Homo sapiens: one gene and its partners. The protein of the gene in region 1 purifies or fractionates together with the protein of each later gene. This does not show direct contact. Each region holds a gene or a part of one and is shown in the gene's direction. Other genes may lie near its edges.

The links.
Region 2: the proteins of EIF2AK2 (region 1) and STAU1 purify together in Homo sapiens (affinity purification with mass spectrometry; 4 studies listed by BioGRID and IntAct, with this or other methods). This does not show direct contact.
Region 3: the proteins of EIF2AK2 (region 1) and CHUK purify together in Homo sapiens (affinity purification with western blotting; 3 studies listed by BioGRID). This does not show direct contact.
Region 4: the proteins of EIF2AK2 (region 1) and EBNA1BP2 purify together in Homo sapiens (affinity purification with mass spectrometry; 2 studies listed by BioGRID and IntAct, with this or other methods). This does not show direct contact.

Annotation. Positions count from the first base shown.
Region 1 is NC_000002.12:37,116,520-37,126,025, reverse strand, and holds part of EIF2AK2 (interferon-induced, double-stranded RNA-activated protein kinase), read left to right. Parts: intron 1-3,361; coding exon 3,362-3,520; intron 3,521-5,886; coding exon 5,887-6,067; intron 6,068-9,506.
Region 2 is NC_000020.11:49,149,139-49,158,644, reverse strand, and holds part of STAU1 (double-stranded RNA-binding protein Staufen homolog 1), read left to right. Parts: intron 1-147; coding exon of another isoform or gene 148-208; intron 209-4,573; coding exon 4,574-4,712; intron 4,713-6,897; coding exon 6,898-7,063; intron 7,064-9,506. UniProt on the Homo sapiens protein: Binds double-stranded RNA (regardless of the sequence) and tubulin.
Region 3 is NC_000010.11:100,186,446-100,192,748, reverse strand, and holds the end of CHUK (inhibitor of nuclear factor kappa-B kinase subunit alpha), read left to right. Parts: intron 1-55; exon of another isoform or gene 56-290; intron 291-607; exon of another isoform or gene 608-756; intron 757-1,780; coding exon 1,781-1,880; intron 1,881-3,121; coding exon 3,122-3,151; 3' UTR 3,152-3,240; coding exon of another isoform or gene 3,241-3,321; 3' UTR 3,322-4,449; downstream 4,450-6,303.
Region 4 is NC_000001.11:43,163,684-43,170,257, reverse strand, and holds the end of EBNA1BP2 (probable rRNA-processing protein EBP2), read left to right. Parts: intron 1-1,229; coding exon 1,230-1,319; intron 1,320-3,022; coding exon 3,023-3,098; intron 3,099-3,338; coding exon 3,339-3,432; intron 3,433-5,452; coding exon 5,453-5,615; intron 5,616-5,764; coding exon 5,765-5,815; 3' UTR 5,816-6,074; downstream 6,075-6,574. UniProt on the Homo sapiens protein: Required for the processing of the 27S pre-rRNA.

The DNA of each region.
Region 1 (9,506 bases):
TGACATGCAAATTCATGAAATGCTCCGTATTTTAAAAACCGTGGCACCAGATAGAACCTATCATTACCCACAAAATAGGTGATCTTTGAGATGTTCTAGTCTTACCTTCTTATTTTATAGATGAGGAAACTAAGATCCAGAGATGTGAAGTGATTTTGTCTAAGATAAAAGCTAGATGGTAATTGTTCTCTGGTTGTCTGTTATTGTATAAGGCACTGCTCCAAAATGCAGTGCTTAAAAACAGCAATTTATTGTTGTCTCTAATGGTTCCATGGGTTGATTGTGCTCATCTGGACAATTCTCACTTGGGGTCTCAGAGGGATTTGCAGTCAGTAGTCATCTGAAACCTTGACTACAGCCTATCTTAGGCTGGATATCCAAGCTGGCTAGCAGTTGACACCGGCTGTGGGCTGGAAGTTCAGCTGGGACTGTCAATCAGAATACCTCCACATGGCCTCCCTATGGGGATTGGGCTTCTTACAACTTGGTGGCTGGGTTTCAAGAAGGATTGTCCCCAGAACAAGTCATCCAAAAGATCAGGAGTGAGTGGCAAGGCTTCTTTTGACCTAATCTGAGGAGTTCCAGAACGTCACTACCATCAAGTTATATTGGTTAAACAAGTCACTGAAGCCAGCTTAGATTCAAGGGGAGGCCAAATAGGCCCTACCCCGTAATTTGTCATTCTAGGGGATGAGTTCTAAGAATATTATTTAGGGACTGGGTGTGGTGGCTCACGCCTGTAATCCCAGCACTTTGGGAGGCCGTGGCAGGCGGATCACCTGAGGTCAGGAGTTCGAGACCAGCCTCACCAACATGGAGAAACCCCTCTCTACTGAAAATACAAAATTAGCTGGGTGTGATGGCGCATGCCTGTAATCTCAGCTTCTCGAGAGGCTGAGTCAGAAGAATTGCTTGAACCCGGGAGGCGGAGCTTGTGGTGAGCCCAGATCATGCCATTGCACTCCAGCCTGGGCAACAAAAGCGAAACTCCCTCTCAAAAAAAAATAAAAATAAAAATAATAAAAAGAATACTATTTAGGGAGGCTGAGGTGAGTGGATCACTTGAGCCCAGGAGTTTGAGACTAGCCTGGGGCAACATGGCAAAACTCCACCTCTACAAAAAATACAGTAATTAGGCCGGTGTGGTAGCCACGCCTGTAGTCTCAGCTACTTCAGAAGCTGAGGTGGGAGGACCATTTGAGCCCAGTAGGTGGAGGCTGCAGTGAGCCATGGTCACACCACTGCACTACAGCCTGGGTGACAGAGTGAGACCCTATCTCCAAAAAAAAAAAAAGAATGTTATTCAAATTATGGATTTATATCCAAGAAGATATAAATCACAGTGTCATTCATTAACAGTAAAAAGTTAGAACAAACAAAATATCCAGCAGTAAAGAAATGAGTATATATATTTTGTTCTGTCCCCTGATCGATGGCTGTTTTGCAGCCATTAAAAATGACTGGCTGGGCCAGGCATGGTGGCTCACGCCTGTAATCCCAGCACTTTGGGAGGCCAAGACAGGCAGATCACGAGGTCAAGAGACTGAGGCCATCTGGCCAACATGGTGAAACTCTGTCTCTACTAAAAATACAAAAATTAGCTGGGCATGGCAGCGTACGCCTGTAGTCCCAGCTACTTGGGAGGCTGAGGCAGGAGAATCGCTTGAACCCAGGAGGCGGAGGTTGCAGTGAGCCAAGATCGCGCCATTGCACTCCAGCCTGGGCGACAAAGCAAGACTCTTCTCAAAAAAAATGACTGGCTGGGTGCAGTGGCTCAGGCCTGTAATCCTACCACTTTGAGAGGCCAAGGCTGGTGGATCACTTGAGGTCAGGAGTGCGAGACCAACCTGGGCAACATGGAGAAACCCTGTCTCTACAAAAAATATAAAAACTAGCCAAGTGTGGTGGTGTGTGCCTGTGGTCCTAGCTACTAGGGAGGCTGAGGTAGGAGGATCGCTTGAGCCCTAGGGGTGGAGGTTGCAGTGAGCCAACATTGCCACTGCACTCCAGCCTGGGTGACAGAGTGAGACCCTGTCTCAAAAAAAAAAGGAAGAATCTAAAATAACATTATTTTAGGATTGTCAAAGTATCAGTAATTTTTTTTATTTTTGCAAATTTGTGTCATATACTTTAAAACTTCTTGCATTAAAAAATAAAATTGTAAAATGATTATTCTTCCTCATCTTTGAAATCTCCAATTTATTTACTGCACTTAGCATGGAATTTTCTTAGGTCTTGGCAACACATCCCTGTAAAGCCTTCCACCATTTCACCTTCTCTGCATAAGTTATCCTCTTTGTGTATATTTGCCACACATTGAAAATCCTGAATTAGGTACTTCACACTGCCTGGGTTACCTAGCCTTGCTGCCTAAATGTGGTTTGCTTGTGAAATACAAAGATTTTAACACAAATCTAAGCAAAACATAATGTATGATTTAGCTATGAAAAATTGCACTGGCTGGGTCCATTGGCTCATGCTTGCAATCCCAGCACTTTGGGAGGCTGAGGCAGGTGGATTGCTAGATCCCAGGAGTTTGAGACCAGCATGGGCAGCGTGGCAAAACCCCATCTCTACAGAAAATAGAAAAAATTAGATGGGTGTGGTGGTGTGCTCCTGTGGTCCCAGCTACTCAGGAGACTGAGGTGGGAGAATTGTTTGAGGCTAGAAGGTTGAGGCTGCAATGAGCCAAGATTGTGCCACTGCACTCCAACCTGGGTGACAGAGCAAGACTCTGTCTCAATAAAATAAATAAATTAATTAAAATGACATCACTGGCATTTCAAGAGTACTACAGATGATTTTTAAATTGTCTGATGCTTGGCATTAAGTCGCTGCCTTTTATTTATTTATTTTTTGAGACAGAGTCTTGCTCTTTTGCCCAGGCTGGAGTGCAGTGGTGCAATCTTGGCTCACTGCAACCTCCGCCTCCTGGATTCAAGCGATTCTCCTGCCTCAGCCTCCCAAGTAGCTGGGATTACAGACATGCGCCACTGTGCCCAGCTAAATTTTTTGTATTTTTAGTAGAGATGGGGTTTCACCATGTTGGTCAGGCTGGTCTTGAACTCCTGACCTCGTGATCCGCCCACCTTCGCCTCCCAAAGTGCTGGGATTACAGGCCTGAGCCACCGCGCCCGGCCACTGCCTTTTATTTTATCTTGAGAGTGAGAACTGCTATGTTTTTTTTCAGTATGTTCACTTTTTCCTTTTGAATGTCCTGGCTTCCATTCTAAAACTATGTGAGAACCACAGCAATGGTTTAATAAGGGAATGTAGACAGTTGTCTATTACATGAGGTGTTTTGTGGTTGTTATGAGGGATGTACACTGACACTGCCATGTTCCCTGTTCCTTTTAACTAGGAAGGCGGAGCGTGAAGTAAAAGCATTGGCAAAACTTGATCATGTAAATATTGTTCACTACAATGGCTGTTGGGATGGATTTGATTATGATCCTGAGACCAGTGATGATTCTCTTGAGAGCAGTGATTATGATCCTGAGAACAGCAAAAATAGTTCAAGGTAACTAAAAATAAATTCTCATAGCCATAATAGGATGGAAGGAAATTGTTATTTACTATGTATGGGCCACTGGATAAGGCTATTAATCATCACGATTAATTATCACAATTCCCTCTGAGAGACACTGTTATCTCTCCATTCCGAAGGTAAGGAGAAAGTGAAAATCTCTTCCTTGCTCCTCCTCTTGCTGCAGACTTGCTCTCACAACCCTCTGTTACATCCTCAGCTGTCTGCAAAATCTCAGGTTCAGCTTTCCTGACTCCATTGTTTCATGGAGAGCCTTGTTCACGTGCCGGCTTCAGCGCAGGCTGTTTAAGTGTAGTCTTGTGAAGAGAGTTTTAACATATAGATGCTGCATCTGGGGGCTCCCTCCTCAGCTACCAACACTTTTCTGTCCCTCTCTTAGGCTGTGATTGGTGTGGTGCCGTCAGAGGGTCTCTTTGGAATGTAACTATACCACTTATGCTGGGGTGGTGGGGAGTGAAAATATTTTTAAGACCACAAGCTGAGATGGGGGCACCCTCATGTTTTATGTCAGTTAAGCCATTGCCAAACAACTGGAGATCCTAAAGAGCTGGCATCTGTCTTTGAAAGTCACCCAACCTATTATGGGGACAGTCCTCTCACTAAAATCCTGAGGCCAATGGGGTCCCATTCATTCATTTTCTCCTGCCCCACCTCCATCTCCATGTCGTGTAAGTGAGAACATTATCATCAGTTCAGGAGTTATTGACCGTCAGCATACAGGACTTCAGCTTTCAGCAAATTCTTGGCTACCTCTTCCTGTTTTCAAGCTGACATATATACAAAGAATATAAATGAATATTGAGGCTAACTTAATTCAGAAAAAAAATAAAACGTGGTTAGCAAAAAAAAAAAAAAAAAAAATCAAGCCTCCAATTTATGTATCTTAGTAATTTGTTGGCACTTCTCTTAGAGTACCTTCCCTATTGTTTTAGGTTTGCTTTCCCTTTACTCTCTCCTATTAGACTATTATCCCCGTGACGGCAAGGATATAGTGTCTAACTGATTTTCTCATCTCTAGGTGCCTTTCATGCTTAGTAGATCAATGGTGAATTAAAAGGTTTCAAAGTTACTTTATATAATAATGAAATTTAGTTTCCTGCATTGTATTCATGTTCCTATTTCTATCTGTTAGCAATGGTGATTGCAGATCTTCAGCAATGAAGAATGGGTGGCTCATTTTTTTTTTCTTCTCGTTTTTTTTTTTTTTTTTTTTTTTGAGACGGTGTCTCGCACTGTCGCACAGGCTGGAGTGCAGTGGTGCAATCTTGGCTCACTGCAAGCTCTGCCTCCCGGATTCACAGTATTCTCCTGCCTCAGTCTCCTGAGTAGCTGGGACTACAGGCGCCCGCCACCACGCCCGGCTAATTTTTTGTATTTTTAGTAGAGACGGGATTTCACCGTGTTAGCCAGGATGGTCTTGATCTCCTGACCTCGTGATCCACCCGCCTCGGCCTCCCAAAGTGCTGGGATTACATGCGTGAGCCACCGCGCCCGGCCTCTTCTTTTTTTTTTTTTGAGACAGAGTCTTACTCTATCGCTCATGCGGGAGCACAATGGCGTGATCTCAGCTTACTGCAATCTCTGCCTTCTGGGTTCAAATGATTCTCGTGCCTCATCCTCCCGAGTAGCTGAGACTACAGGTGCCGCGCCACCACACCCAGCTAATTTTTGTGTTTTTAGTAGAGATGGGGTTTCGCCATGCTGCCCAGGCTGGTCTCAAACTCCTGAGCTCAAGCAATCCGCCAGTCTCGGCCTCCCAAGGTGCTAGGATTATAGGCGTGAGCCACCGTGCCCAGCCCAGCTCATATTTTATAAATTAGCTAAACAAATAAAGCTCTGGACATCCGGGAACTTATGATTGAAATAAAAAATGGCCTATTATATTTTGATTCAAATTTGTTTATTATATTTAGATTTCTATTTTGTGACATGTTTTGGGGTTCTTTTTTTTTCTTTTTTTTTTTTTTTTTGTGAGACGGAATCTCGCTCTGTCACCCAGGCTGGAGTGCAGTGGCGTGATCTCGGCTCACTGCAAGCTCCGCCTACCGGGTTCACGCCATTCTCTTGCCTCAGCCTCCCCGGAGTAGCTGGGACTACAGGCGCCCGCCACCACGCCTGGCTAATTTTTTGTATTTTTAGTAGAGACGGGGTTTCACCGTGGTCTCGATCTCCTGACCTCGTGATCCGCCCGCCTCGGCCTCCCAAAGTGTTTTTGGGGTTCTTAAGAAGATAAGGTATAAGCTTTTAAAAAGTTATGAAAAACTTTAAAAAGTTATAAAAAATTTTTTATAAATTTATATTTATTGTTACTTTTAACATACTGTGAATTTTATACCCAGGTCAAAGACTAAGTGCCTTTTCATCCAAATGGAATTCTGTGATAAAGGGACCTTGGAACAATGGATTGAAAAAAGAAGAGGCGAGAAACTAGACAAAGTTTTGGCTTTGGAACTCTTTGAACAAATAACAAAAGGGGTGGATTATATACATTCAAAAAAATTAATTCATAGAGATCTTAAGGTAAGTGGAAAATGTACTTTATTAATTGATATATATATAATATAGTAATTTTAAAATATATCTTCTCAGCTGGGCACAGTGGCTCACGCCTATAATCTCAACACTTTGGGAGGCTGAGGCAGGCAGATCATCTGAGGTCATGAGTTCGAAACCAGTCTGGCCAACATGGTGAAACCGTGTCTCTACTAAAAATACAAAAATTAGCTGGGCATGGTGGCGTGCGCCTGTAATCCCAGCTACTCGGGAGGCTGAGGCAGGAGATTCGCTTGAACCTGGGAGGTGGAGGTTGCAGTGAGCCAAGATTGTGCCACTGCACTCCAGCCTAGGTGAAGAGTGAGACTTGTCTCAAAAAAAAAAATTATATATATATATAAAATAAGATAGATAGATATATATTTTTTTCTCTAGTTTTAGAATAGTGGTTGATTGATAGTTATGAGAAAATGGTATCTGAACATTTCCATGCAAATAATTACTGTGACTGGCACAGCCAACTGGCTGCTCTGCCCCTGTTCCTCCTGCCTCCTCTAAGTGACTCAGCTTTATTTGAGAGGCAGAGGGGACTCTGTTGACTGTTGCTTTAGGAATATGGTTCCCTAATCTCTCAGTCATTACTCGCGAGGGCTGTCACAGCTACTGGGTCCAGAGTCTAATACTGTCTTGGTTAAGCATTTCAACCCCATGATTGGAAAATTGCGGTAATCCCGGACTGGGAAAGTGTATCATCCCTTAGTATTTTCATTTTCCTCTGGCTTTTATGGTCCGGACAAGGAGTTTCCCTATTTTTTACTTCTCATTAAAATGACAGAAGGTGAGAGACAGAATAGCCCTTCACAGCCTTTCCTCCATTCCCTATTCCCTGTGACTTGCCTAAGCCTGTCACAAGCTGGCCGTCCTGAATCCTGTCCCTGGACCTTTGCTCATGTTCTTCTCTCTCATGGGACACTCTTCTGCCTGCCCCCTTTGGTTGTAATTCCTTTACTGAGCCTTTCCTGATCACTCTGGAACTGCCTTTTTCTGTTCTAGGCAGAAGTACCTTATTTATGTGGCTATCTGCTTATCCCACCCCTCTAAAACAGCAAGGAATAAGGAATGAAACAAAAAAATTCCTTGAGAGAAATAAGTTCCCATATACACAGTTGTTTATTGGGCTCAGAGAGGAATGAGTAGCCCTTAAAAGGTATTGCTTCCGTGGTCTGCCCAGGGGCTGGATGTCTGATGCATTGGTGTTTTGAGTCTGTCTGGTTCCAATATGTCTCTTCTACAATATCTGAAGTTGTTCTTTGAAGGTGGAACATTGTCAGAACTATTTCAAAAGGATAAATGTAGAGTTGGTTATGCTTTCACTTTGGGATAAATCATACATATAGTTAAATAACAAATAAGCACAATTATTTCTATATAAAATAATTTGCAAATAAATGCAGAAGTGTAGGCATTAAGCTCCTAGTCCTCAGAATGAATTAGCAAAATTCTGACTGGTGCCTACCCACTTACCTGCCAACTATGCCCCACACCGTGTGTGCCCTGTGTCATGGACTGATCTTTTCTTGTGTCTATTTGCAGAGAATTTTTACTCTGGCTGCAGTTGCTCAAGGGTCAGACTTTATTATTCTTCTTAAATTTTTAATTTTTATTTTTTTTTGAGACAAGGTCTTGCTCTTTTGCCCAGGCTGGAGTGCAGTGGCACAATCACGGCTCATTACAGCCTTGACCTCCTGGGCTCAAGCAGTCCTCCCACCTCAGCCTCCCGTATAGCTGGGACCACAGGTGTACACCACCACACCTGGCCATTTTTGTGTGTTTTTTTTTTGTAGAGACAGGGTCTCACCATGTTTCCGAGGCTGGTCTCAAACTTTTAGACTCAAAGTGATCCTCCTGCCTCAGCCTCCCAAAGTGCTGGCATTCCAGGTGTGCTCCACTGCACCCGGCCTCAAGCTTTGATACTGAGACTTCTTTCATCTTCTATAACTTTTCAGGCTCTCACTACTACAGTTGTTGATTTCTCTCCTCTAAGAAAAGATACAATGAAGGTGTACAATTTTGGGGTTGTGTTTTGCAAAATAGCAGCTGTAGGTGGTTTTGCCAGAGAATGGTCTTTACCTAACACAGCCCCTCTTACAAAAGTCTCCAAGTGTTTACCACTTTCTGTTGGAATCTTAGGAACTAGACCAAAGGCGCTGGGAAGGGACATAGGGGTTTCTGGAGTGAGGGCTTCTTGTGCAAGGCTGCTTCTCTCTAAAATGTTCAGTCTCCTAAAGCCCAGGCTCTGGTCATCCTCAGCCTGAGCATCAGTCCTGTTCCTGTGCCTCCTAGGTGAAGTTTGCATCCCTTTTATATGATCTACAGCCCTATATTTTGTCTAATCATATTATAACTGATTAGACAAAATGTGGCATTATTGTTTTTATTTCTTTTGTGTTTTACAAGGTCTCACTCTGTTGCCCAGGCTGGAGTGCAGTTGTATGATCTCAGCTCACTGCAGCCTGGACCTCCTAGGCTCAAGCAATCCTCCCACCTCGGCCCCCCACATAGCTGGGACTACAGGTGCAGGCTACCAAGGCAGGCTAATTTTTGACATTTTGTGGAGACAGGATTTTGCCATGTTGCCCTGGTTGGTCTCGAACTCCTGAGCTCAAGTGATCTGCCGACCTTGGCTTCCCAAAGTGTTGGGATTACAGGCATGAGCCACCATACCCAGCTTCTTTTTCTTTTCTTTTTTTCTTTTTTCTTTTTTTTTTTTTTTTGAGACAGAGTCTCCTCTGTTGCCCAGGCTGGAGTGCAGTGGAGTGATCTCGGCTCACTGCAGCCTCTGACTCCTGGGTTCACGAGATTCTCCTGCGTCAGCCTCTCGAGTATCTGGGATTACAGGCGCCTGCCATGATGCCCAGATAATTTTTTGTATTTTTAGTAGAGACAGGGTTTCACCATGTTGGCAAGGTTGGCCTTGGACTGATGGGCCCACGCTGTCTGCCCGCTTCAGCCTCCCAAAGTGCTGGGATTACAGGTGTGACTCACCACGCCCTGCCCACTTTTTCTTTTGAATGAACTACAAAAAGTGATCTGATATTTTCACTAGATAGCCTCATCCAGCTTAGATATTTACACGGCTTCACAAATTCAATTTTCTGTTTCTTAGAGTCAGGTGATAGCCTTATGTGGGACTAGCAGTTTCACTTGCAATCCTGACATATTCCTACACATTGCAACTTGAACATAGCATAGGAATGTTTTCTCTCCACATCCACTCCACATCTGTCTACAGCTTTCCATCTGTATTACTGGTGTTAGGCTCCAATCTGACTGTTAATTGAATTCTAATCCAACTGCTAATTGCTGTATGAGCCGTCATCTCAAGCTGGCTTCTCGGAAGCTCCTCCTTCAGCCTTCCCTGGGCTTATGGTCTCTTCCCTCTTAGGTCCTTACTAGGTAGGCCCTC
Region 2 (9,506 bases), on another chromosome or scaffold:
AGAGATGGGGTTTCACTATGTAGGCCAGGCTGGTCTCGAACTCCTGACCTCAAGTGATCTGCCTGCCTTGGCCTCCCAAAGTGCTAGGATTACAGGCATGAGCCACTGCACCTGGCCAATAAAGGATTCTTTGTTTTTTTCCTTTAGTGGAAGCCGTGCACTGAGGGAATCCTAAAAGTAAGACCTACAAGAAAAATCAGCTATGAAGGCAAGTTGCCTCACCCCTTAAGGCACCAAATTTAAATGACCTAGACATACTGAAATCCAGGTTTCCCTTGTAAATTATTTGTAAGTGAGATAAAGTGATATTCAGTGATTACATCAGAAGAATAAAAGCTTCAATTAATTTTTTCTTTTTTTGAGACGGAGTTTTACTCTGTCATCACCCAGGCTGGAGTGCCATAGCGTGTTCTCGGCTCACTGCAACCGCAACCTCCCGGGTTCAAGTGATTCTCTTGCCTCAGCCTCCTGAGTAGCTGGGATTACAGACACGTACTACCACACGTGGCTAATTTTTGTATTTTTAGTAGAGGCAGGGTCTCACCATGTTGGCCAGGCGGGTCTTGAACTCCTGACCTCAGGTGATCTGCCCGCCTCTGCCTCCCAAAGTGCTGGGATTACAGTTGTGAGCCACCACACCCGGCCGCTTCAATTGATTTGTTAAATTCCAAAGTAGTGAATCTCAAATCTTTGGGGTGCATCAGAATTACTTTGAGAACTTAATAAAAATAGAAACGCTCATGCCTTAAATCCTATCACTTTGGAAGGCTGAGGCGAGAGGATCACTGGAGCCCAGGAGTTTAAGACCAGCCTAGGCAACATAGGGAGACCCTGCCTCCGCAAAAATTAAAAAATTACCCAGGTATGGGCCGGGCATGGTGGCTCACGCCTGTAATCCCAGCACTTTGAGAGTCCAAGGCGGGCAGTTCACAAGGTCAAGAGACCAAGACCATCCTGGCCAACATGGTGAAACCCCATCCCTACTAAAAATTCAAAAATTAGCTGGGCGTGGTGGTGCATGCCTGTAGTCCCAGCTACTCAGGAGGCTGAGGCAGGAGAATCGCTTGAACCTGGGAGGCGGAGGTTGCAGTGAGCTGAGATCATGCCACTACACTCCAGCCTGGCGACAGAGCAAGACTGTCTCAAAAAAATAAAAAAAAAAAATTAGCCAAGTATGGTGGTGTGTGCCTGTAGTCCCAGCTACTCAGGAGGTTGAGGTGGGAGGATTATTTCAACCCAGGAGGCTGCAGTGAGCTATGATTGTGCCATTTGAGCTCCAGCCTGGACAGCAGAGCAAGACCCCATTTCAAAAACTGAAAAAAAGGGTGGTTATGTTTTCAAACAAGAGCCCACAAACACATTGCAGCATCAAAACAAACATTGTCTTAATTTGTGTGAAGTACTGCTGTGTGTTTAAATCAAGTTTGCAAAATATCTTTCATGAGAAGTAATTGGAAGAGAATTTTGAGGCTGGACGTGGTGGGTCATGCCTGTAATCCCAGCACTTTGGGAGACTGAGGCAGGTGGATCACTTGAGGTCAGGAGTTCGAGACCAGCCTGGCCAACATGGTGAAACCCTGTCTCTACTAAAAGTACAGAAATTAGCCGGGCATGGTGGCAGGTGCCTGTAATCCCAGCTACTCGGGAGACTGAGGCAGGAGAATTTCTTGAACCCAGGAGGTGGAGGTTGCATTGAGCCAAGATCACACCACTGCACTCTAACCTGGGGACAGAGTGAGACTGTGTCTCTTAAAAAAAAAAAAAAATTTCAGTGCATACACACACAATCTCTTTTTTTTGTTGTTGTTTATAAAAAACAACAAAAAAGGATAAGAAGGGGATGACAGGATGAATTATCAAGATAAGACCAGGCCTCTTAAACCATGACCATAGAAAGTGTTCAAGGTTCAAGTGACATATTACAGTCAATGTCAGGTTTCATGAATTTGAGAGCTCACACTTTTCATTTCTAGGAATTTACAGTACTGCTGACACTTGGAAATCAGCAATGGGGAGCTGAGTGAACTGGTATTAAAAAGGTCAAACACACAGCTGCTGCTAAAGCTTTGGAGGGAACAAAATTTCCTAAGCCCATAGTCAGCCCTTTTGGTAGCGAAGGAAGGAATCCAGGTCTTATGCATGGGCCAAACAGGTACCTTTCAAAAGTGTGTCTAGAGGTACCATGTAGTATGTATATGAATGGTTTCTTAACTTGTTGATTTTGAAAGCACAGATTCTACACTACCAGTGACAAATGCTTATTTTTTAGGAATCCTTAACCTCATTGTAAAGCAGTGGTTTCCAATCTATGATGCCTTAACGCCTGACAATCTGGAAAGGCGGTCATAGGAAGGATGGCGGGTGACCAGATAATTTCAAAGATTTCCGAAGTTTAATGAAAATATATTTTTGATAAGAGTGTATAGATTAGCAAGAATATAAGTTTAATTTAGAGTCACATCAAGTCAGTGTGGTAATATTGATTGTAATTTTGTTGGTCAGAAGTGCTTATTGCCAGTTGTATGTCTCTTAGTTATTAAAAAGAATGAGAAAAATGTAAATATTACTTAAATACAAGCCAGCAGGTAGTATCTCCTCAGACAAGGAGCCCATTCAGGGAGCATACTAATCAAGAAGGCATGGCTGGTGAAGGGTTGGGGATCAGTGACCTGGAGGCTGTGTCATTAATGGCTGTTTTAGCAGAGACCCCCTCACATGCATGAAGTCATCCCAGGTCTTCGTATGTAGGAAGGAATCTGGGAAGTTACCAGTCACATCTTTCTTGTTACTTTTGATTTCTTTGCAGTATACTTTCTTCATGTTTATTCTCTATTGCAGACAAATTCTGTGGATCAGAGCTGCTCTTAAAATGATTCAGACTGTACTTAAAATGCAATTATATGAATTTTGTAAAAAATATAATTCTAATGCAAGGAAGAGAGAGATCTGTAATTCATGTGGCCCTCTGTGCAAACCCCAAAGATATTCTTATAGATTTGATTCATGCATTAAATTTAGTTGAACCAGTTATAGTACAGAATCAGGTCTTTTTTATTTCTCTCTATATACATCCTAAAGAGGCATTTTAAAGTGGATTTTTATGTGCATTTAGATTTTGCCATTTCTAGTGTTCTGTTTTTGATATGAAAGTGTTGTTTTTAAATATTGTGCACTGACACTAATCTTTCCAGGCTGGTTTTCTTTTTAAATGGTTTTTAAAGGTTTATGGATTGGATGAACTGAAAGAAAAAAAAATTGGAAAATGAATAGCATGTATTTTCTGAAGTTGATAATTTTGAGATAACTTGTTGTGTATGAAAATGGAACTCATTTTCGTAGCAAGTATGACCACAGGTCAAATTCATTAGAAATGTCAAGAATGGAAATACCTGAATATTTTGTGGGCCTTGTGTGACTTCTGTGAAGAGAATTGGGTTGCCACCTCCTCACTGATTTTTCACCTTTAAGTTGCACATCATGTTGTATTGTAACTCTTTGAGTGTGCTTTGTGTTTTTTGAACTCCTCTGGGGCAGGAATTGTGTTTCTTTTTTTTTTTTAAGACAGAGTTTTGCTCTTGTTTCCTCATCTGGAGTACAGTGACGCAATCTCGACTCACTGCAACCTCTGCTTCCTGGGTTCAGGCGATTCTCCTGCCTCAGCCTCCTGAGTAGATGGGATTACAGGCATGCGCCACCATGCCTGGCTAATTTTTTGTATTTTTAGTAGAAACGGGGTTTCACCGTGTTAGCCAGGCTGGTCTCGAACTCCTGACCTCAGGTGATCCACCCGCCTCGGCCTTCCAAAGTGCTGGGATTACAGGTGTGAGCCACCCTCACTGCAAGGTCCGCCTCCCAGGTTCACACCATTCTTCTGCCTCAGCCTCCTGAGTAGCTGGGACTGCAGGCACCCGCCACCATGCCTGGCTAATTTTTTGTATTTTTTAGTAGAGATAGGGTTTCACCATGTTAGCCAAGATGGTCTCGATACCCTGACCTTGTGATCCTCCTGCCTTGGCCTCCCAAAGTGCTGGGATTACAGGCGTGAGCCACCACGCCTGGCCAGGAATTGTGTTTCTTAAGCTTAGCACAGTGCTTTGCATCCAGTTAGTAATGTAATAAATGCATCGTTCAATACTGTGTACGGACATACTTCTGAGTGCAAGCCAATAATCCTGTAAATCAGTACAACCAAGGTTATATTGATTAAGTATTCTCAAACAGTAAAACAATTTGGACATTTACATGGGATTTTTTAATCGTGAAATTTGATGTGTTTTGGAACTTATTTCTGACAGCTGTACCATATAGCTTTCACTGATAATGTCTTGGGTTAAATTGTGGCTCCTCTGGTAACCCTCAGAGTAGATTTTGTGCTGTCGACTGTGTATAAATATCTAGAAATCACAGCATATTCTTGGATTTCCTTGTCTGATGCCTAGCAGTGAGCCACCCAGGTCCTTTTATGTAAAGTATCATGAATCCAATTAGCAGAAAGCATGCTATTACATTTTATTTTAGTGAGTATCATTCTCATACCAGAAAAAAACAGTTCTTTGTCGATTCTTTCTTGCAGAAAGCATAACCCCTACTGTAGAACTAAATGCACTGTGCATGAAACTTGGAAAAAAACCAATGTATAAGCCTGTTGACCCTTACTCTCGGATGCAGTCCACCTATAACTACAACATGAGAGGAGGTGCTTATCCCCCGAGGTATGTGTTTTTTTTTTTTTTTTTTTGTAAAATACAGGAGAAAACGTGTCTGATCTTTTACATAAACCAGTACCTCTAGATTGTGGAGGGAGTAATGATTTGGTTTGGGCCTGCCAAGTGTTGAAGTTGGTCTTAATTACTCTTGTGCCTTTGTGCCCCTCCCCCGCCTTTTCTTTTTTTTCTTTCTTTCTTTTTTTTTTTTTTTTTTTTTTTTTTTTTTTTGAGACAGAGTCTTGCTCTGTCACCCAGGCTGGAGTGCAGTGGTGCAGTCTCGGCTCACTGTATCCTCTGCCTCCTGGGTTCAAGTGAGGAGGCTGTCTCAGCCTCCCGAATAGCTGGGATTACAGGCACCTGCCACCACGCCTGGCTGATTTTTTTTTGTATTTTTTAGTAGAGACGGGGTTTTGCCATGTTGGCTGGGGTGGTCTTGAACTCCGGACCTCAGATGATCTGCCCACCTTGGCCTCCCAAAGTGCTGGGATTACAGGCGTGAGCCACCACACCTGGCTGCGCCTCTTTTTTTTTTTTTTAATTCATTGAGACAGGGTCTCCGTATGTTGCCCAGACTGGTCTTGAACTTCTGGGCTCAAGGAGTCCTCCTGTCTTGGCCTCCCGCAGTGCTAGGATTAAAGTGTGAGCCACCACACCCGGCCCTTTGTGCTTCTTTTTTTTTTTTTTTTTCTGAGACGGAGTCTCGCTCTGTTGCCCAGGCTGGAGTGCAGTGGCATGATCTCGGCTCACTGCAAGCTCTGCCTCCCGGGTTCATGCTATTCTCCTGCCTCAGCCTCCCAAGTAGCTGGGACTACAGGCGCCTGCCACCACACCCGGCTAATTTTTTGTATTTTTAGTAGAGACGGGGTTTCACCTTGTTAGCCAGGATAGTCTCAATCTCCTGACCTCATGATCCGCCCACCTCGGCCTCCCAAAGTGCTGGGATTACAGGCATGAGCCACCACGCCCGGCTCCTTTGTGCTTCTTTAACTACTGCTCTTGGGTAGGGCCTGAGCATATTTCTTGCTGGCAGTGTGGCTTGTGCCCTCAAGCAGCCTGGCTAAAGATAACCCTTGTAACTGCTTTGTGTAACTGAATCATATTTAAACATGATTCCCATAGCATCATGATTCCTGCAAGACAATGATTCCCAGCATTTGTAGATTACCTGATTATTGGGTACTTTTTGACTTTTGAACTTGTGCGTTTTGTAAATAGCTTTGGTGCAATAAAATATTAATTGAAACCTGAAAATGCCATGGATTAAAAATCTTCTGCTGGCAGTAATAAGACATTAGTGGAGGCCAGGTGTGGTGGCTCACGCCTGTAATCCCAGCTCTTTGGGAGGCCAAGGCAGGCGGATCATGAGGTCAGGAGTTTGAGACCAGCCTGGCCAACATGGTGAAACCCTGTCTCTACTAAAAATACTAAAAATACAGGCATGGTGGCAGGTGCCTGTAATCCCAGCTACTCGGGAGGCTGAGGCAGGAGAATCGCTTGAACCCAGGAAGCGGAGGTTGCAGTGAGCCGAGATCGCACCACTGCACTCCAGCCTGGGCAACAAGAGAAACTCCATCTCACAAAAAAAAAAAAAAAAAAAAGACATTAGTGGATAGATGATGAGCAAAATGGAATTCTTCATTTCCCTGCTCTCTGTTGGGGGATAGTCATTTTAAAAATATAAGCTATGAAATGGATAAGAAACTGGGTTCTGCTAGGGAAATGGATAAGAAACTGGGTTCTGCTAGGTAGGCTACAGCTTATTGGGATTTCTTGAAATGAGGGTCCTTTTGAAAGACTTGTGCATTAAAATTCCCAGCCTCCTATTGGAGACATGCAAATTTAAAGCTAAGGTTTGAGAAGGCAGAGCAAGCCAAGTTTTTGTCTCAGCCAAAGCCTAATTCATTTTAGATTTTGTCAGTGCAGGTTAGTGTGATAAACTCATAATTTATAAGCCATTGTATTTTGTGAGATGTAAGTTTGGATTGCTAAACACTCTTTGCTTATACTGTGTAGCAATTCTAATCCAGTTTAAGCTTTTATGAAATCTCTGGATATATTGATGAAGAGTGATTAGCATCAAACACTAATGTGAGTAGGATCGTGATGAAGGAAATACTTGCATTTGCCAGAGAGTGTATAGGTGACTTATCAACTTGAGACTGTAATTTGCCTAACCTCCTTTTATTTCTAGGTACTTTTACCCATTTCCAGTTCCACCTTTACTTTATCAAGTGGAACTTTCTGTGGGAGGACAGCAATTTAATGGCAAAGGAAAGACAAGACAGGCTGCGAAACACGATGCTGCTGCCAAAGCGTTGAGGATCCTGCAGAATGAGCCCCTGCCAGAGAGGCTGGAGGTGAGGAGTTGAGCCCAGGCTCCCTGACGCTTCGACAGGGTAGGAGGGTAGTGGGGAGATGTCACCGCACATTATCTTTTCTAAGAAGGCACATTGACAGCTGTCCATAATTTTTATTTGAATGCCTCCAAGATTTTATGCTCTGTAGCTTTCTTGCTTTTTACTCCTTTTTTCCTTTTAAAATTTCTTAACAAGAAAGTCAGTTGCCTTCTTTTTCAGTCTGTAGCATGGTTTTGAGTGACATGATACGGTGTGAACACGTTAGAAAGTTTGTGATTCAGTTGAGTTGTGAAGAACATGTATGGATGAAGTCTTCGGTGCTCAAGATTATGCTTGCCAGAATCTACTGTGATATATGGGTACCAGGTTAGAGGATTTTCTGAAGCTGTTTTTTACCAGCCACTCTTGATTATATAGAAGCGCCAGTTACCTTTTGCCTCATAACAGACCATCATAGAATTTAGTGATGGTTTAAACATCTCCAGGCATTTATTTTGCTTATGAGTCTGTGATTGAGGCTGGGCTTGGCAAGGGTGTAGCTTGTCTTCGTTCCACACAGCTTTGGTTGAAGTGGATCTGCACGGGGCCGGAGGATCTGCTTTTAAGGTGGCTCACTCACGTGGCTGGTAAGTTGGTGCTTGCTGTCAGCTAGGAGCTCAGCTGGGGGTTCTGGCCCCAGGACCTCAGTTCATCCCTGGGTGACCTATGGAAGGATTGCTTATACTTCTTCATGTTATGGTGGCTGGTTGCCAAGAGTAAGCATCCTAGAAGATGGGAAATGGAAGCAGCTGCCAGTTTCTTAAGGCTTAGGCTCAGAAATCACAGCATCGTGTCTGCCATATTCTACAGGTCAAGCAGTCATGGAGCCCAGATTCAAAGGAAGGAGATATAGAATGTCACTTAGAAAAAAAAAATTGAGGTGGCTGGGCGCAGTGGCTCACGCCTGTAATCCCAGCACTTTGGGAGGCCAAGGCGGGTGGATCATGAGGTCAGGAGATTGAGACCATCCTGGCTAAGATGGTGAAACCCCATCTCTACTAAAAATACAAAAAATTCGCCGGGCGTGGTGGTGGGCGCCTGTAGTCCCAGCTATTCGAGAGGCTGAGGCAGGAGAATGGCATGAACCCGGGAGGCGGAGCTTGCGGTGAGCCGAGATTGTGCCACTGCACTCCAGCCTCAGGGACAGAGCGAGACTCTGTCTCAAAAAAAAAAAAATGGAGGTAAAAATTATATAACCTAAATTGACTATTGTAAGTGTACAATTCAGTGGATTTTAGTACGTTCACAATATGGAGAATCCCATTTCCAGATGATGAAAGGATTGTCAAAGAATTAGGGGCCATGTTTTAAAACCACCATGATAGGAAAAGGATTTTAACATTTTTGTGACTAAATAGCAATATAATTCTTAGGGAATCAGTAACTCCATGCCATTGAGGGGTCAAAGCATTAGTGAATATCTTTGGCCAGGCAGAATCTTATCACAGATAGAGTCACAAAGTCTAGAAGAAGTCCAGTGAATTGAAAACATTGAGATTTCATAATTCTGTTTAATCACAACAGGAAATGCCACCTGAAAATATCTCTGGGTAGCATTTGACTTTTCTTCACCAGGAAACATGTTCACAAAGAACAGGAGGATCCTGCACAGAACAGTGGGCTATGTGATGAGAGGTGTAGACCCGAGTGGACCTTGGGCAGGGTGCCTGCTGAGTCTGTTGTATCCAGCTGCCACCCAGGGTGACCCAACTTGGGCTTCATGGCTGGCCGCACAGGAGCGATTTGTTTTTCTTTTGTTACGCTGCATTTCCATTTTCCGCTATAATCACCTATTCTAACAGATGATCTGTTTCCAGGGCTCACTAAGGACCAAATCAAAGAAAATGAGGCTGTAACTAAAAGAGGAGGATTTAGTGAAGTTAAAAGAATGAGCTTTTCAGTGGTGAGATTTGTTAAAACACCAAAAAGGTAGTGTAATTTGAGTTATTTTGGAGGCTTTTCAGCTTTTTACTTGACTGTTGCTAATCTAATTGGAGTCAGATGGAGTAGGTATTTCTAGTCCTTCCAGCCAATAGTTGATGAACAATTGCTGGACACTGCTATATGGCTTTTCTGCATCACAATCACTTGAGAAGTTAAAAAAATAAATTCTAGGCCCAACCCCGGGATTCTAATGCAATAGGTGTAGGGTGAGACCCAGGAATCTGGCTTTTGCTTTTGTTGTACTTGCTTGGGGGTGTGTGTGTGTGTGTTTTGAGACAGTCTCTCCCTGCTTTTGTTGTTCTTGCTGGTGTGTGTGTGTGTGTGTGTGTGTGTGTGTGTGTGTGTGTTTTGAGACAGTCTCTCCCTGTCACCCAGGCTGGAGTGTAGTGGCATGATCTTGGTTCACTGCAACCTCCACCTCCTGGGTTCAAGCAATTCTTGTGCTTCAGCTTCCTGAGTA
Region 3 (6,303 bases), on another chromosome or scaffold:
ATTCCTACTCTTTTGCTAAAAGCTGAATGACTATCCATTTCTGTTATTTTCTCAGCTTAAGATGTGCCGTATCCAAAGCCAGTGGCTCTTTGCTAGCTTGTGTATTGTCGCTTTTCTCACAACTCATGGAGACCTCTACAGCACCAGCATTTCCTGGAAGCTCTGCCCATAATTAGTTTTGCAGAAGTGCAGCCATGTTACATCACTGCTCAGGAGGTCATGCAGTTGCACATTCTGTACTCTACTTTTATGAGAGAAAAGCACATGGCAGGAAGGCAAGCTGATATCAGGTATTTTATTTTTTTAAAGAAAGCAAGTTCCAGGGTATATATCTTGGGGTCATTATACATGTGGCCCAATGCAGTACACCTACAACTGTAGCACAGGCTATAATTAAATATATAGACTTTACAAAATACTCCAGTAATCAGAGTTGAAGGAAGTAAAATTTAATACTTTACTTACTTTTTTGCCTTTATTAAAGGCATTTAAGTTTTTTAGCGGATGTTAATGTTTACAAATGTCACCACAATACAGGTAATTTCCAATTTGAAGTGTAGTTGCTTGCAAAAGTATATCTGACAGACATTTTCAATGTATTTTCTAGAAGGAACACATTATATTTTGTTTTGAGACGGAGTCTCATTCTGTCGCCCAGGCTGGAGTGCAGTGGCACAGTCTTGGCTCATTGCAACCTCCGCCTCCCAGATTCAAGCAGTTCTCCTGCTTCAGCTTCCCGAGTAGCTGGGATTTCAGGTGCGTGCCACCATACCTGGCTAATTTTTGTATTTTAGTAAAGACGGAGTTTCACCATGTTGGCCAGGCTGGTCTCGAACTCCTGACCTCAAGTAATCCACCTGCCTCGGCCTCCAAAAGTGCTGGAATTACAGGCATGAGCCACCATGTCCAGCCAGAATACATTGTATAAGAAAATTGATTTCAATTATAATGTACCTGTGGTACTTAACTACCAAGGATTGGGAACTGTTTGACCATAATTTTTCCATCTGTTGGATAAGAGCTGAATCAGAATGTCATTCTAAGCTAATAGTGGCTATCATCCATGACCTAAAACGGACTCTTGTTAGGGGACTGAAGATTGGCAAAGGGAGAAGCTAGAGGCCATATAGAAGAGGAAAGCATGAAGGTAGAAACCACAATCAGGACTGCCTTCAAATATGAACTTCCAGGGATACTTCTTGGTTCTGGGTAGCTCCCCCACCACACTGTTTTCTTTTGCTGTCCTCAGGAATCAGCTTGCTTGTTTCGTTTCATTGCTATCATCTGTAGTTTCTAATGAGTTTTTCACTTTCTGTGATCTCTACAGAACAGATTTTACTTTTCTCTCTTCTCCCCTACATTTGTGTCTGTGAAGTATGCATGCTGGTGTTTTTACTACTTTTAAGGAAAGAGAAGTATTTAGAAACAAAAACGTATTTCATCTGTCTTTGCCACAAGGATTTTTTCCTCCCTAGTTACATTTTCACGGGAAAAACAAGTTGTACATAAGTGCATCTTACATTTCAGAGGAAAGTCAGACTGGAGTTATAGTGGACTTCTTATCATTAGTTAGGTAGAGGTAGAGGCAGCAGCCTGGTCTTAACAGGACTCTGCCTCTGTAGGGAGGGATGAGGAAACTAAAGACTACAGGAGTCAACTGCACTGGGGTACTGGGTTACAGGAAGGCTAGTGATCTTGCTAACCTAGAAGACTAGAAAGTAGAGGAAATTCATATGCCCTTTTCCTGAGTTTGAAAAGGCTTTGTTCTTTCATCTCACAGGGAGACTTCAGCACAAATGATAGAAGAAAATTTGAACTGCCTTGGCCATTTAAGCACTATTATTCATGAGGCAAATGAGGAACAGGGCAATAGTATGATGGTAAGTTTTGTGTGGATATGGGTGCCTGCTTTGGCTATGTTGGGTGCAAAAGGTTTAACTTTCCATGCTAGCCTTATCTGGCATTTGGGATGCATATGGGAAATAGAAGAACTCAAGAGGAAAGAGCATTTGGGGAATATCCTCAACCTTAAATCCTTATCTGCCGTTACTCAGGGATATACTAGGATTATGTCATCAATTATCTTCAATAATAGCATTTTTGGTCAAATTAAATGAGTGGTAAGCTTCTTCACAATGTGACCATTGAAATTGAATGGTTTGTTCTGTACCTTTTTGCTTCAGCAATCAATTTTCTCCATTAAGATGGGACTTGTACTTTAATTCAGATATGGTACCTCCCGAATAGAAAATAAATTATGTTAATATAGTTGTAATAATAAGTGTGTGTTAAGATTTGGTTACTATAAACTACTGATTTGTTAAAACTTGAGGAAATTACCATAAAATGTCTACTGAATCAATTTTTCCTGCATTTAGTCTTAATGTCAATTCTGTACATTTCCTCTTTCATTAAGAAAAATAGCAGTGGCCAGGCATGGTGGCTCACGCCTGTAATCCTAGCACTTTGGGAGGCCAAGGCAGGTGGATTGCTTGAGCCCAGGAGTTTGAGACTAGCCTGGCCAACATGGGAAACCCTGTCTTTATAAAAAATATAAAAATTGGCCAGGTGTGGTGGCACACACCTGTGGTCCCAGCTACTTGGGAGGCTGAGGCAGGAAGATCGCTTGAGTTCAAGAGTTTCAGGCTGCAGTGAGCCGTAATCCTGCCATTGCACTCCAGCCTGTGACAGAGTGAGACTTTGTCTCGGGGAAAAAAAAAAAAAAAAAGGATAATGGTGGCCAGCCATATGACATGTACCTGTAGTCCGAGTTACTAGGGAGGCTGAGGCAGAAGGATTGCATGAGCCCAGGAGTTCAAGGCTGCAGTGCATTATGATTGGACTTGTGAATAGCCACTGTACTCCAGCTTGGCAACATAGCAAGATCCTGCTCTCTTAAGAAAAAAAAAAAAAAGAAAAGAAAAGGAAAGAATAATTGTTTACTTCAAATATTTATGAAAAAAACTCTGAAATTTTTTTAAATCAGGAAATAAGGTAAATGAAATGATTTTTCAACTTTTGATTATGAAATGTCCAAACAGAAAACTTGCAAAAATGAACACCCATATACTTATAACTTATAGTCAACATCTAATTGTAACTTTTTCATGCCTGGTTTTAGAATCTTGATTGGAGTTGGTTAACAGAATGAGTTGTCACTTGTTCACTGTCCCCAAACCTATGGAAGTTGTTGCTATACATGTTGGAAATGTGTTTTTCCCCCATGAAACCATTCTTCAGACATCAGTCAATGGAAGAAATGGCTATGAACAGAAACTACATTTCTACTATGATCAGAAGAACATGATTTTACAAGTATAACAGTTTTGAGTAATTCAAGCCTCTAAACAGACAGGAATTTAGAAAAAGTCAATGTACTTGTTTGAATATTTGTTTTAATACCACAGCTATTTAGAAGCATCATCACGACACATTTGCCTTCAGTCTTGGTAAAACATTACTTATTTAACTGATTAAAAATACCTTCTATGTATTAGTGTCAACTTTTAACTTTTGGGCGTAAGACCAAATGTAGTTTTGTATACAGAGAAGAAAACCTCAAGTAATAGGCATTTTAAGTAAAAGTCTACCTGTGTTTTTTTCTAAAAAGGCTGCTCACAAGTTCTATTTCTTGAAGAATAAATTCTACCTCCTTGTGTTGCACTGAACAGGTTCTCTTCCTGGCATCATAAGGAGTTGGTGTAATCATTTTAAATTCCACTGAAAATTTAACAGTATCCCCTTCTCATCGAAGGGATTGTGTATCTGTGCTTCTAATATTAGTTGGCTTTCATAAATCATGTTGTTGTGTGTATATGTATTTAAGATGTACATTTAATAATATCAAAGAGAAGATGCCTGTTAATTTATAATGTATTTGAAAATTACATGTTTTTTCATTTGTAAAAATGAGTCATTTGTTTAAACAATCTTTCATGTCTTGTCATACAAATTTATAAAGGTCTGCACTCCTTTATCTGTAATTGTAATTCCAAAATCCAAAAAGCTCTGAAAACAAGGTTTCCATAAGCTTGGTGACAAAATTCATTTGCTTGCAATCTAATCTGAACTGACCTTGAATCTTTTTATCCCATTTAGTGTGAATATTCCTTTATTTTGCTGCTTGATGATGAGAGGGAGGGCTGCTGCCACAGACTGTGGTGAGGGCTGGTTAATGTAGTATGGTATATGCACAAAACTACTTTTCTAAAATCTAAAATTTCATAATTCTGAAACAACTTGCCCCAAGGGTTTCAGAGAAAGGACTGTGGACCTCTATCATCTGCTAAGTAATTTAGAAGATATTATTTGTCTTAAAAAATGTGAAATGCTTTTATATTCTAATAGTTTTTCACTTTGTGTATTAAATGGTTTTTAAATTACTTTCTTGATCTCTATTCATTATAAAAATCAGATTATAATAAAACAGTTGAATATGGCTTAGGAAAATATGAAGGTTCCATGAAGTGGAATTAAGAGCATAGAATAACTGTACTTTCCTTAGGAATAATAGGACTTATGGTAAAGGTAGTATTGGGCAACTTCTTTAAGAGTGTTTTCCTCTGAGATGTCCTATCACCACTATCTACATCTAAAAAACATGCTCGATTCTTGCCCTATAAACTGATGTCACAGCCCCACCATCCCCATTTTTGCTAGTGGTATCATTTTCCTAGTCAACCAAATTTTTTAGTCATCACATATCACTGTTCGTCATCTATTATAATAGGCAGTCTCTCTCTTGTTTCCCTGGTTTTAGAAGATTTTAGTAATAAACATTTATTGGGTACCTGTTACTTGGAGGGTATTAAGCTAGATGGCAAGATCTGAAACAACATAGGCAGTATAGTAAAAGTGCTTATCTGGGAGTCTGAACATTACAAGCCATCCAAGCATTGCAATTATTGTTAAGGATTATTTTCAATGGTCATGCATTTTCTAATATTTTAATAATTGGTTAAAGATTTGTTATAGCGTGGGGGCCGCTGCTGGTGTGTGGCTGGGGTTATGTCAGGGCAGCCTGATCTATATAATTTGGGCAGATGGTGTGAGTCAGAACAGACTATTATAGTGGGATCCCCAAACTTGCTTTTGATGCATGAGTTGGACCACTATTTTTTGGTGGGTAACAACTTTTCAGAGGGGAATGGCAGTTGTGAATTGTATACATTTCATTCTTTAAGCAATATTATGAAAAACTTCAGAGAATGTCTACAGAAAACAGGGTATGGAGCAAGTTATTTTCCATTCTTTTTGCTTTTTGGAAGTTAAAATAGCTAAGCTCTGCAAATATCATTTATTTGGAACAGATAAGGTCCCAGACATTCCTAGATAATAAAAATCAAATGAATGATACAGGTAAGTGTATTTATTGAAGGGTGTGGGTAGAGTGGTCTGGGAAGTCTTGCTTTAATGAAGACGGATTGATTCTATTTACCTCTTCTTACTTCCACTACTAAGTAACCCTGGGCCTGCAGTTTCCTAACCACTTGACTTCCTTGCCAACAGTCTGTCTCCACTTTCAGCCGTTTTATAGATTCATTGGCCCTAAAGCACTGCTTTCCCATACTTCCCTACCCAAGAGGGCAGGGGTCCCCAAGCCCTGGGCCGCGGACCGGAACCAGACAGTGGCCTGTTAGGAACCAAGCCGGATAGCAGGAGGTGAGCGGCGGGCGAGTGAGCATTATCGCCTTGAGCTCTGCCTGCTGTCAGATTAGCGAGTGGCATCAGATTCTCATAGGCACGCGAACCCTATTGTGAACTGCACATGTGAGGTTTGCCGGCTCCCTGTGAGAATCTAATGCCTGATGATCTGAAGTGGAACAGTTTCATCCCCAACCCACACACACCCCCACCCCGTCCGCTGGGTTAGAGGACTTTACAACCCTAGTCCACCTTGTCCAGTTATAGTTCCACCTCTAGCCTTTCAAGGCTTAAACCATTAATGTCCTTAATTTCTCTTGTATTCATCTATCTCCCAACTATACCTTTTTCCTTCCCTTTTTTATTTTTGGCAATATGTGCCCATGGTTTTTTAATTTAAAACGAACAGAATATGTAGTGACGCCTACCATAGCACTCCTTCCCATCACACAAGCCTTCAAGGAAACTGAAGTACTTACTTTGGTCTCCCTGGAGGATTCCCTCCGCCTCCCGCCCCATGTGCTTAGCAATTCTGTTCCTGTAGTCTGGATGGCCTTCATAAAGCCCTCACTGGACCAGCATTCTGGCACATAATAGGAACACTTAAAAAACGAGAGAATGATGCCGTTATATCTAATATCTTCCTCTTCTGAACTTTCA
Region 4 (6,574 bases), on another chromosome or scaffold:
TACATTCAGCCCTCCATAGCCATGGGTTCAGCATCTGTGGATTCAACCAACCTTGGATCAAAAATATTGGGGAAAAAAATTTGAAAATATTGCAAAAGGAAAACTGAATTTTCCGTGTGCCGAGAACTACATTGAATCCATGAGAATGAGGTGATGCATAGCATTGTATTCGGTATTATAAGTAATCTAGAGACTATTTAAAGAAGCGGTCTGGCACTAGAGACTAGTTTCGTGGATGACAATTTTTTCATGAACTTGGGGAGGGGATAGTTTTGGGATGAAACCGTTCCATCTCAGATCATCAGGCATTAGATTCTCATAAGGAGCAGGCAACCTAGATCCTTTGCATGCATAGTTCCATGCATAGTTCACAGTAGAGTTCGCACTCCTATGAGAATTTAACGCCACCACCAATCTGACAGGAGGTGGAGCTCAGGTGGTAATGCTTGCTTGCCTGTCACTCACTTTCTGCTGTGCGGCCTGGTTCCTAACAGGCCACAGATTCATAGTGGGTTCGTAGCGGTCTGTGGCCTGGGAGTTGAGGTCCTCTGACTTTAAAGGATACTGGAGGCGAGTGTAGGTTATATGCAAATGCTGCACCATTTTTATATAAAGGACTTGAGCATCTGTGGATTTTGATATCTGTAGTGGGTCCTAGAACTAATCCTCTATGGATACTGAGGGATAAGTATATTTAAATAGTACCCTGGGGTCTCAAGCTGGATTTTAGGGAGCTTTTGTCGTGGTAGTAGTTCACCTTCTTACTGTGAACTCTGTACAAATTCTCACTGACAACTTCTCATCCTTTAACTAAAATGTGTATGTTTGACTGAAAAGGCTAGGCACCTGGTATCTGCCTGGGTTTTTATTGTGTATGTGGTATACTAGAAAAGGACACTGAGGCCGCATACTGGTTTCCAGCCTCAGTCTACTGACAGTAGAAATGGGGAGAAGTTTGTCTTCTTTCCTGGGCTACAAATAGGCAGTTTGTATAATGAAACAGACAGCACACTGGGAGCGGGAAGGTGACTTTCAATCTCTGGCTTCACTCTGGCACTTTTGGTAAAGTGCTCAGCCTGTGGGCCCCATTGTCCTCAGGGGTTGGAACTGATGATTTATAAGTTCCGCAGTTTAAAGAACAGGGAATATCTGTTCCCTGCTCTAGCGAATCCTAAGTAGTGGTCATTCCAGATTCAAATGACATGAACTGACAGCATTTTGTGTTGTAGATTCGACAGAAGCTGCAGACTAAACAGGCTGCCATGGAGAGGTCTGAAAAAGCTAAGCAACTGCGAGCACTTAGGAAATACGGGAAGAAGGTGAGAAGAAAAGTGTGCAGGGAACAGGAAGAGGCGGAGTGTGTGTTAGATGAGATTGCCGTGGTCTGACTTGGTCCCCTGAACTGAACGGAACTGTGTGTTGATCATGTATTTACCGTCTCTCAGTGTATGTGCTGGTATTCATGAGCACAATCTTGCCTGGACATGAGTGGTTCCCCAGGAGTAGTATGGTGACTGCAGGTGAGCCAATCACCTCTCTGGGCGTTAGTTTTCACATCTGTACACTGGGTCCAGATGAGTGGTTTCCAAACCTGACCTTATAGCAAAATCACCAGGGGAAATTTTTCAAAACAGAATTCTAGACTTCAGAATCCCCAGGAATCTGTGCCTGTTTTCCCCTCTTCCCCAAAAGCTTTCCAGGTGATTCTGAAATGCATCCTGGTTTGGGATTCACTGATCTATGTGATAATCACGTACCTGAAGAAATTATCATAATGATTGTCATCCAATCTGAAAGATTGCCTGCGTGTTTGAACTATGAATGTCTGAGTTCTAATGTAACACCAGATCAGGCATACCCTAAAACTTTTCTTGGTTTTCCTTTTTTATTTCATGGTCATCTAAGAAAGAAGATGACAGATTTTAAAGTTAGGATTGTGGGAAGAAATGAATGTGAGGAAGATTGGTGTGGGTGTTAAGACTTCGTCAACATTTGGACATAAGCACTTGTGATCTGGGCTGCAGAACTCTTGTCCACGTTTGGAGTCATTTCACTGATACATTCTCAGCAAAGTAGGAATAGGCTGGGATCCTGTCCTCTACAAAAGGCCTGCTGCGGATTTATTATTTCTTTGATCTGGAGGTGGATGGCTGAGATTCTCTCAAAGACACCAGTAATTAATTTAACATAGCCAAAGTTACCAAAAGCAAAGACAAACTCACTTGGGCCTATTAGTTCACTGTTCCTAATTTAAGGAAACACTGGGGAAGAGTTTGTTAACTGGGGGTGAATTTGCTCCCCAAGAGTTTTCTGTGACTGCCTGGAGATATTTTTAGTTGTCAAATTTGGGAGGGAGGGTACTACTGGCATCTAGTAGGTAGAGGGCAGGGGTGCCGCTAAATATCCTACAGTGTAGGACAGGCCCCTACCCCCCAGCAAAGAATTATTCTCTCCACACTGTAGCAGTATCAAGATTGAGAAACCCTCTGTTAGAGTATTATAAAGTGTCTCCTTTTATCCTTCAAACTTTTTTCTTTTCTTTACCTGGGGACATTGTTTTTTTCTCTTCCTTTTGGTACTTTCATGCCTAGTAACAGTGAGTTAGATAATTAATCTGTCCAAATGTGATGCGAAAAATCGATGTAGTCTTAAACATGATTTACTTCAGTTTTGTAGGCAGGATTGTATAATAGGGTGAGTGCTGGCTTTGGAGTCAAACAGCCTGGGTCATCTTGGCTGTGCATTTTTTCACTGTGCGACTTGGGCAAGTTAACTTCCCTGTGCTTCAGTTTAGGGGATAACACAAATTTCAACTTCACTGGATTGTTATGAGACAGATATATCTTCATCTATGAAGAATATACCTAGATCTGAGAATATACTTAGAGTCCCTAACACAGTTTTTGGCACGTAGTAAATGTCAGAGGGTAGTGGTATTAATCATGGTGTTGCTATTAAGACAATGTAGACACTGGAGTAATGGTATGGAATGGCTGTAACGGTCCTTGTGTTCATATCACAGGTGCAAACGGAGGTTCTTCAGAAGAGGCAGCAGGAGAAAGCCCATATGATGAATGCTATTAAGAAATATCAGAAAGGTTGGTACATCTCTAATAGGGGAACGAGGGTAGCAGGTACTTTAGAGTTGATTTGAACACTTAGTGCTTTGGAGCCTTCTTGGTTGATGTGGACCTGTCGGATCAAAGTTTTGGGAATGGTGTTGGAGAGCAGGATGTGACTCTTAAAATCAGTGTAGCAAATAACAGCCTCATATGGTGGTTTAAACTTTTATTCTTAAAATACAATGGTGCTGATCAAAACTACTTCTTCACTTACAGGCTTCTCTGATAAACTGGATTTCCTTGAGGGAGATCAGAAACCTCTGGCACAGCGCAAGAAGGCAGGAGCCAAAGGCCAGCAGATGAGGAAGGGGTGAGAAGGGTTTTGGCATGGTTTCTTTGGTTCTGTGAGGTGCGATGGGGCCACAGGTCACGAGTATGGCAGACATAGCACCTCCACCGGCGCAGCCATAGAGTCCAGAGAGTGCAGCTGCTGCCTGGGGCCAGGACCCCTATGACTGTGTGATGGGCCCTTTTAGCCATGTCAGTCTTTGAAGAGTAAAAGAAGGCACTTTTTAAACTTCTTTTTTTTTTGGACAGTCTCATTCTGTCACTCAGGCTACAGTGCACTGGTACAGTCTTGGCTCACTGCAACCTCTGCCACCTGGGCTCAAGTAATTCTGTGCCTCAGCCTCCTGAGTAGCTGGAACTACAGGTGCCTGCCATCACACCCAGCTAATTTTTGTATTTGTAGTAGAGACAGGGTTTCACCATGTTGGCCAGGCTGGTTGTGAACTCCTGGCCTCAAGTGATTCACTCACCTCAGCCTCCCAAAGTGCTGGGATTATAGGTGTGAACCACTGCACCCATCCTAAGAAGGTACTTTTAAGTATGTGGCACCCTTTAAGTGAATGCTGAGTAAAGTTGATTCCCCATCACACAGTGCGATGGTTGAGAGTTCAGACCTAGGGTTCAGATCCCGACTCTACCACTCAGTAGGAGGGCAGTTTTGAACGAGTTACCATGCCTTTCTAAATGCTAATTGCCTCATCTGCTAAGTTGAGGAAATAGTGTCTGCCTCATAGTATGAAGACTGAAAGAGAGAATGTGGGCTCTCATTGTTTTTTCTAGTCTGCTTTTTTGCATACCTGGATACCAGGCCTAGGGGAAATGATAATTTCCATGTAAGATAGTAAGTGCTATGATAGAGGCATTTGGGGATTAGTACTGAGTCAGCTTTTATAAATACCTGACAGGGTCTGGGGTGGATTTCTGGAGGAGCGTTCGACTTGAGCATTGCTTGAAGCATGAGTAGGAATTAACCACGAGAATAGAAGAGAAGCTGGGTTTGGGAAGAAGTAAGAGCTTGAACGAGCAAAGCCATCGAGATGTGAAACCTCAGGGTTTTGTGAGGAACAGTAAGCCCTTGGTGTCACTGGGAATACAGTGCAAAGCAAGGAGGGGTGCAATGTGTTTGGGGGGACCTGGGCTGTGGGTTTGCCTTGTTGAGGAGCTTGGGCTTTGTCAGAAGGCAGTGGAGAGACTAGGTTGTAGGTTGTACTAACAGTAATGAGCAGGTTATATTCATGTTTTTAAAAAGATCACAGTGGATTTTGTATAAGTGACAGACTTGAGGGAAGCTGGGAAATTGACAAGGGTACTATTGCAAAAGTCGAGATAAGGATTGAAGAAACATTTAAGAGGTGAAATGAGCAGGACTCAGTAATTGAATTGGGTATAAAGAGTGAGAGAAGAACCAAGGCTGACTCCCACATGTTTAGCCTGTGTGTCTGGGTTGGTGGGAGCAGCGCCAGCCTCAAGTGAGGGCATATGTACAGGAAGCAGAGCCAGTCCAGGAGATGATGTGAATTTGGAGATGCTGAATTCAAGATTCCTATTGGATGACCAGTTTTACATTTGAATGTTATTCCATTTGAATGTTATTTGAATGCCTATAATTACATTTGAATGTTTACATTTGAACGTATTCATTACATTACATTTGAATGTTACAAATGTAACATATTACATTTGGATGTTAACTGCATGTATTTACCCTTGAGAGGAATAGACACAACTGAGGGTGATTTAATAAGATTTGGTTAAAATAGAAAGCTTTCTAAAGACAGCAGGAAGCCATGTAATATATGTAGAGCCTTCCCTGCTTCTTGCTTTATTTTCCTGCCCTGGTGGTCAAAACTGTAAATAGGTGAGCTAGATGAGTTTGTCTAGAGAGGCTGTAGCATAGGATTGTGGGGCCAAGGATGAGATTCTGGGTTACAGACGTGCCTAAGGGGCTTTGCTTATAGAAAGGAAACTGAGAGCATTGCTGGGCCATCAGGTTCATCAGGCTTTACAGTGCTGTAGTGATGTCTAGGACCATTCTTTTCCAGGCCCAGTGCTAAACGACGGTATAAAAACCAGAAGTTTGGTTTTGGTGGAAAGAAGAAAGGCTCAAAGTGGAACACTCGGGAGAGCTATGATGATGTATCTAGCTTCCGGGCCAAGACAGCTCATGGCAGAGGCCTCAAGAGGCCTGGCAAGAAAGGGTCAAATGTAAGTGAGCCCAGGTGCCCGGGTGAGGAGCAGGCTCAGCCTCCCCTCCCACTCCCAACCCTGCCCTCTCCCTTCAGTTCTGTTCGTCCTCACCCTGGGGCAGAAGGCAAGCTGCTATGTGACCAGATGTGGTATGTCTTTTTCTGTAGAAGAGACCTGGAAAACGAACAAGAGAGAAGATGAAGAACAGAACACACTAAATAGCATCTTTGAATACAAAGAACCAAGAAAAAGGAATGAAGACTCGCAATTTCACGACACACTTTGATCCCTTCTGTTGGTGTCATGTTGTAAACATTTCTTTCAATAAACTAAAGAAAAATTATTAAAGGAACACATACCTTTGGTTAAATAGTCTAGACTAAAAGATTGAGAAGTTACTTTCCATTGCTATCTATTGATAATTTAGACATTGAGTTCAAATTGCCTTCATTTTATGATAAATAATGATTTAACTGACACCTTCTCATTTCCTTTGTCTCATCCTTCTAAATAGTTATATTACGATCAATCCCTGTAAAGCTCAATGCCCATATTTTACAGGTGTGAGCCACCGTGATTTTCTTTGTGGTACAGCTTTTGGTTTTTCCTCCAGTTAACCTTCACCTTACATTCTTCTGCTTGCCTAATTTTCCTTCTATATTCTTAGTTCTTTCCAGATGCTTTGTCATTTTACCCACTTTATAATTTTTCTCCTACAACCTAGTTATGCCACACAACTGTCACCTTTTTTCTAGACCGTTTAAGTTGGCACCATTATTTCCAGAATCCCATGTTTTCCCATCTTAGCATATGCCTTCTTTTGCTGTGTACCATTTTTTGGTATCTTACTAAGAAAGGGAAGATGAGAGGTAAACTTTTTATCTCCTTGCATTTCTGAAATTGCCTTTAATTTGGGCTGATAGGAATTTCCTCCTTAGAATTTTAGAATTTCGCAGGCACTGTTTTTAAGTTTTATT